Linked DNA regions of Homo sapiens. The protein of the gene in region 1 purifies or fractionates together with the protein of each later gene. This does not show direct contact. Each region holds a gene or a part of one and is shown on either strand. Other genes may lie near its edges.

Region 1 (3,827 bases):
GAAATTCAGTGGCATTTCAACAAAAAAAAGTTGTACAAAGTGTTCTTAAACTAAGATCAAAGGGCAAGCAGATACTATTGTTCAGACCTCAGATGGTGTTTCCTCTGGGTGTCCTTCTAAGAATGGGTATAAATCCTTTTTAAATGTGCTGAATCATGGTTAGTTCCTCTATTTGAGAGCTTACCTCTGATCAGCTTGGAGGAGGGCTTCCCTGGGATAAGAATCTGTTTAAATACAAAAACAATGCTCAGTGCTTGCTTTAGCATATAATTTGTTGCCTCTCTGTGTCTTCAGAGAGTAACTACTTTATATGTTGGATTTCAAATTGATATTTTACTTGACTATGAATACTGGCTAAATACTGGCTATCAAATGTAGTATATCAAACGTAGTATATCAAACGTAGCAAACTAAAAGATAGCAGCTCTGCTGTCTTTGCCTCACTCCTATTTACGAAGGTGAGTTAGACAAGGAAAATGAAGAGGGTACAATGTCTTGCATCATGAAGCAGCTTTCTGTAACTTTTTCACAAACCAATCCTTCACTTTCTGCTTCCCATCTTATATCAAAAATGAACTATTCTAGGGAATGATTTTTTTTTTTTTTTAAGACAGTATCTTTTTCTGTCACCCAGGCTGGAGTGCAGTGGCGAGATCTCGGCTCACTGCAACCTCTCCGTCTCCTGGGTTCAATCAATTCTCCTGTGTCAGCCTCCAGAGTAGCTGGGATTACAGGTCTCCGCCACCACACCTGGCTAATATTTTTTTTTTGTATTTTTAGTGGAGCTGGGGTTTCACCATGTTGGCCAGGCTAGTCTCAAACTCCTGACATCAAGTGATCTGCCTGCCTTGGCCACCCAAAGTGCTGGGATTACAGGCTCACGCCACTGCGTCCGGCCAGGAATGACTATTGTTTAACTTAGCACAACGTCGTTACAGTTTTAATTTTTCTACTTCGATCTTTATTCTATTTTTCTTCCTCTTCTGTTCAGAATTTTAGTCATTTTGCCATCTTTGGTGCTTCCAGTAGTGGGAAGAAAAGTAGACAATATTTTAATTAGACAATTTTGTTTTTCACTAGTTTTCATAAATATATGAGTAAAAGGAGTAGAAATCACCGCAGAAACTCCCTAAGATAGGAATAGACAATTTACCAAGGCCCCATTCACGTAAACAGCTGTTACACATTAACCATCCTGTCCCCCCCTCCCTAGGCCACAGCATAACCCAGCCATGTGCCCAGCAGCTGGGCTGCTCCAGCCGCAGGGTGTCACCTGGGGGGCAGATATAGGGCATAGCTGGCATCTTCTCTTGTGTTCCCCGCAAGGAACCAGTGCATTATGTTGTTCTTATTTCCCTGTTTTCATCACGACAGCGGAGTTAACTTTATTCAAATACACTTTCTTTTCTGATCATACCCTTACCTTCTCTTCAACACCCTCACTCCCATCTCTGATCCAGCTTTTACCCACTGGAAACGTGTGAGTCGGAAAACGGCACTAGTCTCTCCTGGAATATATGAAAGTGGTGATAGTTGTATGAAGGGGAAGGAAAGCCATCACCACTTCGGTGAAAATTAGAGTTAACTCTAATTTTTCAGTGCCATTAACCTCTGAAGTTTCGAGAGTACCAGAAATTCTCAGAACCTGCATTCCCCCTGTTCACCTTTTACTACAAGCATTAGAAATCAGTAACACATTGTGGGTCACTGAAATTTATCAGATTTTGTGTTCAGTCACTAGTGTTTTGAAGATTTTGTTGTCTATACTTTTTTTCCAATGTGAATATGTAGTATTTCAGCACCCTATGCATAAAGTTAAGGGTCTGAAGCCAGGCTGGGAACACAGCTACCATCCCTAACATGGTTTTTCTGGGGACACGTATGCCCCAGCAACAGAAAACCCATTTGGGGTTTATTGGTTAAATGAGTTTGGGATAACTGGTGAATGTATGTTCGCCATAGATCATAGAATTTAGAGCTTGAAAAGTTCTCGCATATCATCTAATCTGTTTGTTCGCAGTTAAATTTGTTAGATGTTTTCACCACCATTTTCTCTTTACTGCTGTTACCTCTTAAGATTGAGGGACAATCCATGAAAACACACAGAGATCCTAGTGCATCAGAGCAATAGGGCTGTTGGCCAGGCTGGAGTGGATAATGAAGGAGAAATTACAAAAGCAGGCAAGAGCACAACCCTGGAAGAGCCGAGGAAACCCAAATCTGGAATTGTTGGGGTTTTCTCTTAGTGGATAGCATCTTCTCCAAGAACTCTACTTTTAGAAAAGAAAATGCTATGTATATCTATAAATGTCCAAAGGACTGTTGACTCCAAAGAATTGTTTTCTGCTCCGAAATTGAGTTGAAAACCACGTTGCTCTGAGTGGCATTGTTCCACTGATATCCACTGATTCTCTTCCTGCCCTTCCCATCTCCATTATTAAGGAGATTGGGACCATAATAGAGATGATATCTAAATTACATCAGTTAATTCCTTGATGGGTCCCCACGGTCTCGTTATCTCAAGCACAGTCCCAGATGACTGGGTCGAAGAATCTCCTTCAAACATTTTTGCAGGATGAGGTTCTGGTTCCAAGTGGGAGAGCCTTCCTGACTTTCAGATTTATAGGCATACGCCCTTGATGACTGATCCTCCTGCTGGCCAGGTCAGGATTGTCCTAGGCCTAAAATGTCCTTGCCACACAGTGCCGATTATATGTTCAGATTGTTTTCATATCACCAAAGAGCTCAGCTGGCCACGGGGGGAAGTGGAGTGGAGTGGATTCACAGGGCGCAGAAAACAGTGCCCCTCGGAGGCAGAGCCCCGGAGCCCGCTCCACCCTGACCTCCGATATCCGCCACGGGCCTTATTATCACTCTCCTGCCGCTTGCCCTTTCACCGTCCAGAACGTCTGCGTTTGTTGATTGTTGTTGCTGTGTTTACAGTCCTGTTGGTTTCCTGTACGTGAACATGGGCTGGAAAAAAAATTCTGATTTGTGTCTCAGCAGAGCATGAGTGAACCATATCATTGGTAAGAGCTGATTAGGCCAGGAGATTTCTTATAATATTAGCCTTGCTTATTCTCTGAGACCAGTTATTTTCCCTCCCTCCTTTTGAATCTATGAATTACATTTAAATAGTCCAAAGACTGAGTTTTGTAAACTACAAAATTAAGGACTAAAAGTTTTTACTTAATTTTGATTTTTATTCAGATTTTATTTGTAGACTCCCATATCGGAATAAGTTAACAACGGAGAAGCTGTACATTTTTTAGAAAGAGAGGGTTTTTTTTTAAGATCAGTTTGAGGTTCACAGCAAAACTGAGCAAAATTTTGCAGAGATTTCCCAGGTACCCCCTGCCCCACAGGTGCACAGACTCCTCCATTATCACCCAGCAGAATTTGGTATCTTTGTTGCAATTGATGAACTTATATGGACACATCATTGTCACCTAAAGTCTGTAGTTACATCCCGGTTCACTCGTAGTGTTGCAGATTCTGTGGATTTGGACAAATGTGTAATGATGTTATCCACCGCTATAGTATCATGCCGAGGAGTTGTGAAACTACTCTGCCCTACAAATCCTCTGTGGAGAAGCTGTACATTAAACAAGGAAAAACAAGTCAATGAAAGTATAAAAATTCAAAATACGCAGAGTTCGGGGAAAGAATTATAAAATACCTCAGTTGAAGAATATTTTGTTTCTGGGGTTTTACTAAAGTGGTCCCTAAGGAAGTAATTTTGATAGTCTATGACAATGTGGGATTTATTTTATAGTGCTTCTATGTGTTGACAACAAATCCATCAGAAATCTTTCTTTTTTCTTTCT
Region 2 (3,827 bases), on another chromosome or scaffold:
TCTTAATCTAGTGAAACATTGCCACTTTCTTCCCTTCTGACATGGTATAGTATATTCTATAGTTTTTTAGATATAGTTGTCACGAAATTTCTTCTGACATTCATTTATTTGTATGACAAATAATGAGAGTGTTCTCCGTTTGAAGCATAGTTCATTTGCGTTATTTATTAAGAACCTTCTGTGTGTTAGGTAGAGTTCAGCTGGAGATAAATCAGGGAATAGAACAGACAGAATTCTGCCTTCATGGAACTCAAATTCTAACATTAATATTTATCTTATTCATATAGAGAGAAATAACCATCAGAGTAAATACTTGTTACAGTGTTCATGAAACACATGAACATTTAAACATTAATAGAATTTTGTGATCTGCTAAAGGGAATGATATGAAGACACATTGCTATCTTTTTTTCATTTTTATTTTTCGTATCTGGTTAAAGTACAATGCTATTGTTAATTTCTTTACAATATTTTATTTCCTCATTTCTGAAACTAAGTTGATGTTTATATTTTTACTTACTTTGAGAGCCAAAGGCTGATTTCTTTAATTCTGCCTCCCACTTTAGGCCTTTAGTGCAAAACTTTGTATATTTTACATTGACTGTGTCTTTTCTAGAGTTAGTGTTAGAGGTGGACTCCTAGTAGTCCTATAATTATAAAACAAATTCCAATTATTTTTGACAAAAAACTCAAGCAACTAAGTTAGTGAGGGGTGGAGGGTGGTAGCATTAGGTTTTGTGGCTGGTTTAGAAGATAGCTGTTTCAATCAACCAGAAACACCTTTCTGGACTTTGAACAGAAATCGTTTTGGAGATTTAAAAGGATATGGTGTTGGGAAATACAAATTTTTGTTCTTAGTGTATGTCATTACCTCACTTTTATTTCTTGTTAACAGTCTGCAGGACCAGATATGTGATGTCAGTTTTCCTATGTTGGGTAGAAATATTTTGTTCTGTGTAATGTTAATAGGAAAAATTAAATATCTTCAGGGGTAACACGGGTTAAGTGTAAATGGAGTAAAATTGCAATAAAGAATTAAAGATGAATAACTCTAAGTTTTGAGAGTTTAATAGAAAATTTGTGCTAATGGTGAAAGGCAGTATGCCTTGTTTGAAAAAGAGTGCAAACTGGGAGACCAAATACTGACATTTGTTTTGTGTGTCAAATGGGAATCATTGAATGTTTGAATAATCCTTCTAATCTTATCTCCTCCAGGAGCATTTATGGATCTTCACTTATATCTGTTTAGGTTTGTAGCTTGCGTTGCAGTTTTTTTGTTTGTTTGTTTGTTTGTTTTTTTGAGATGGAGTCTTGCTCTGTTACCCAGGCTGGAGTGCAGTGGCGTGATCTTGGCTCACTACAAGCTCCGCCTCTCGGGTTCACGCCATTCTCCTGCCTCAGCCTCCCAAGTAGCTGGAACTATAGGCACCCACCACCACACCCAGCCAATGTTTTGTATTTTTAGTAGAGGCAGGGTTTCACCATGTTAGCCAAGATGGTCTTGATTTCCTGACCTCGTGATCCACCCACCTCGGCCTCCCAGAGTGCTGGGATTACAGGCGTGAGCCACTGCGCCCAGCCGTGTTGTAGTTATTTATGTATATATCTTTTGTTATCTTCCCTATTAGGCATATGCTTCTTCATAACGTTATTCATGACTGATGAATTTTTTATATTTACCATGGTGCTTTGTATATAGCACTTTGCATATAATAATTGTTAAATGACTGTCTTTTGAATGAGTGCATAATGCTACTTGCCTATCTAGAATATGTGTGAACCTAATTGAAAGAAGGCTGAAGCTCTTGAATAAGAAAGGAAATTGAAATGTTATGTGATTTAGGTCAGTTTTAAATGCAGACCAGACTGGTATAGTGATTATTAATTTGTTAACCTGCTGTCTGTTCTTTACCATGTATTAATATGGCATTAGTCCAGATAGTTTTAAGTGGCCAGATATCTATCTCCTGTCTCAACTGGCTCCAAGGATTTTTGGCACTCAACAAAGAGGCGAAGAACAGAAGGGGGTTGGAATGTGTGCCTCCTTCTTACCCTCACTTGTATGTTTTCAAGGCAAAATATATTACATTCGTAATCAATCTTGTATAACTAGTGCTATTTAAAATAACTGTCATTATCTATTCTTAAGTATTGTCAAATTAAAAGATTATTCTAAAGTCCCATTACTATTCAAGTTTTAAATAAAATAAGTGAATCAATATAATTTCATAATCAAAACTTTACATGTTTGTCTTTTAGTCTAAAGATCATCACCTTTCACTGAATGGTCTATTGTTTCCAACTTTTAACTATGTCCTTTCTACTTTAAGATACAAACTTCTGTTTATTCAAATCTTCCCACTTTCCCTTCTGAAAATCTTTTCTTTTTACCCTAGCTTGTCTGTTCCTTTTATATTTCAATCTAAGTGCTGCTTCCTTTGGTTCCTGGTACTCTTTATCATTTGCTGAACCAGTCCTCAACCTCTAATCACTTCTGCTCTAATGACATAACATATTGCTCCTGTTTGCATACTTAGAACTTTGAAGTTAGCCACATTCTTAGTTCTGTTCTGCAGTCCAATTTATTGTTTGATAACTCAGATTCCTTTTAGACCAGAGAGAGTGAAGTGGTGCTCTACAAGTTGAGTATGGGATGTTTTTACCCCAATGCAGCAAATTTCATATACATATCCAGATTTTTGCTTTTTCTTGAAAAAAAAAAAAACCTGGAAATTTTGACAGTACTTGGTTCTCATTCCTTTGAGGCAGTAATCTTACAGACTTGAGTCAGCTGCTGTCTTTATATAAGCCCTGCATGCTCTAATTTGGTTCAGCCTTCACCATGCTCTATTATTCTATAGCAGGACCAGTTCATGTATTTACATGTGCCAGCTTGGCTCCTATAGTCATTTTCAAGGACAAATATGTTTTCTATTCCTCTGAAAAAAATGCTGCATTTTTTATCACTCCCAGAATTTGCTCTCATACTGTCTAGAGTTCGTATGTGCAAGCGCTGCTTCCTCTTCCGTATCAGTTTCCCTTCCTCTTCCCCATCAGTTTCTTCCTAGCTTGCTGAAATCTAACGTTCATCTCTACACATTTACAGAAAGATGTTTATGCATGATTGCCTGTGAACGTACTGCTCAATTTGCCTTTAGGCTTTAAATGATGTATTTTAGGTATTTTTTTTCAGTATTTGTACTTTTTTCTTTCAGAATCTCGCACTGACTCCATTCTTTGGTGGACCTTCCTCTGGGTCCTCTCTGGGTGTTTGCCCCACAAGCTTAGATCTTCTCTCTTTACACATATGCCTTCAATTATTTTATTTACTTACATGGCTACCAATGCATAGATAAAGCTGTTGACGCAGATTTGATTGCTATCTTATTAGCAATCAAATCTGCATCAACAGCCTTATCATTCTGATCAATATGTATCCTTTCACTTGGTAGTCCCTCACTAACCTATGTTTAAACTAACTTCTCTTGAAGCATTTCTATTCATTGATGATTCATTTATTTCTTAATCAAGTATTCAGTGTCAACTATGTGTTAGATGTGTACTAAGTATTAGGGCTAAAGTATTGAGCCAAGCAGAACACTAAGTTAAGTGAGGTAAAATACATTGAACAAATAGTCACAAGAATACATGTTTAGAACACACCTTTGATAAGTGCTAAGAAGGAAGAAACAGGATGATAAAGCATATAATAGGAAGCTTGATTATTATCTACAAGTCTGGGAAAACTGACTCCTTATCTAGGTTCTATAATTATTCTTAGTTCATAGGCCGTTTTCTACTAAACCATGTGATCTTAGGATCATCAA

Evidence for each region.
Region 2: the proteins of BMP6 (region 1) and ANKRD50 purify together in Homo sapiens (affinity purification with mass spectrometry; one large-scale study listed by BioGRID and IntAct). This does not show direct contact.

The regions. Positions count from the first base shown.
Region 1 is NC_000006.12:7,732,308-7,736,134, forward strand, and holds part of BMP6 (bone morphogenetic protein 6 preproprotein), read left to right. Parts: intron 1-3,827. UniProt on the Homo sapiens protein: Growth factor of the TGF-beta superfamily that plays essential roles in many developmental processes including cartilage and bone formation.
Region 2 is NC_000004.12:124,702,567-124,706,393, reverse strand, and holds part of ANKRD50 (ankyrin repeat domain-containing protein 50), read left to right. Parts: intron 1-3,827.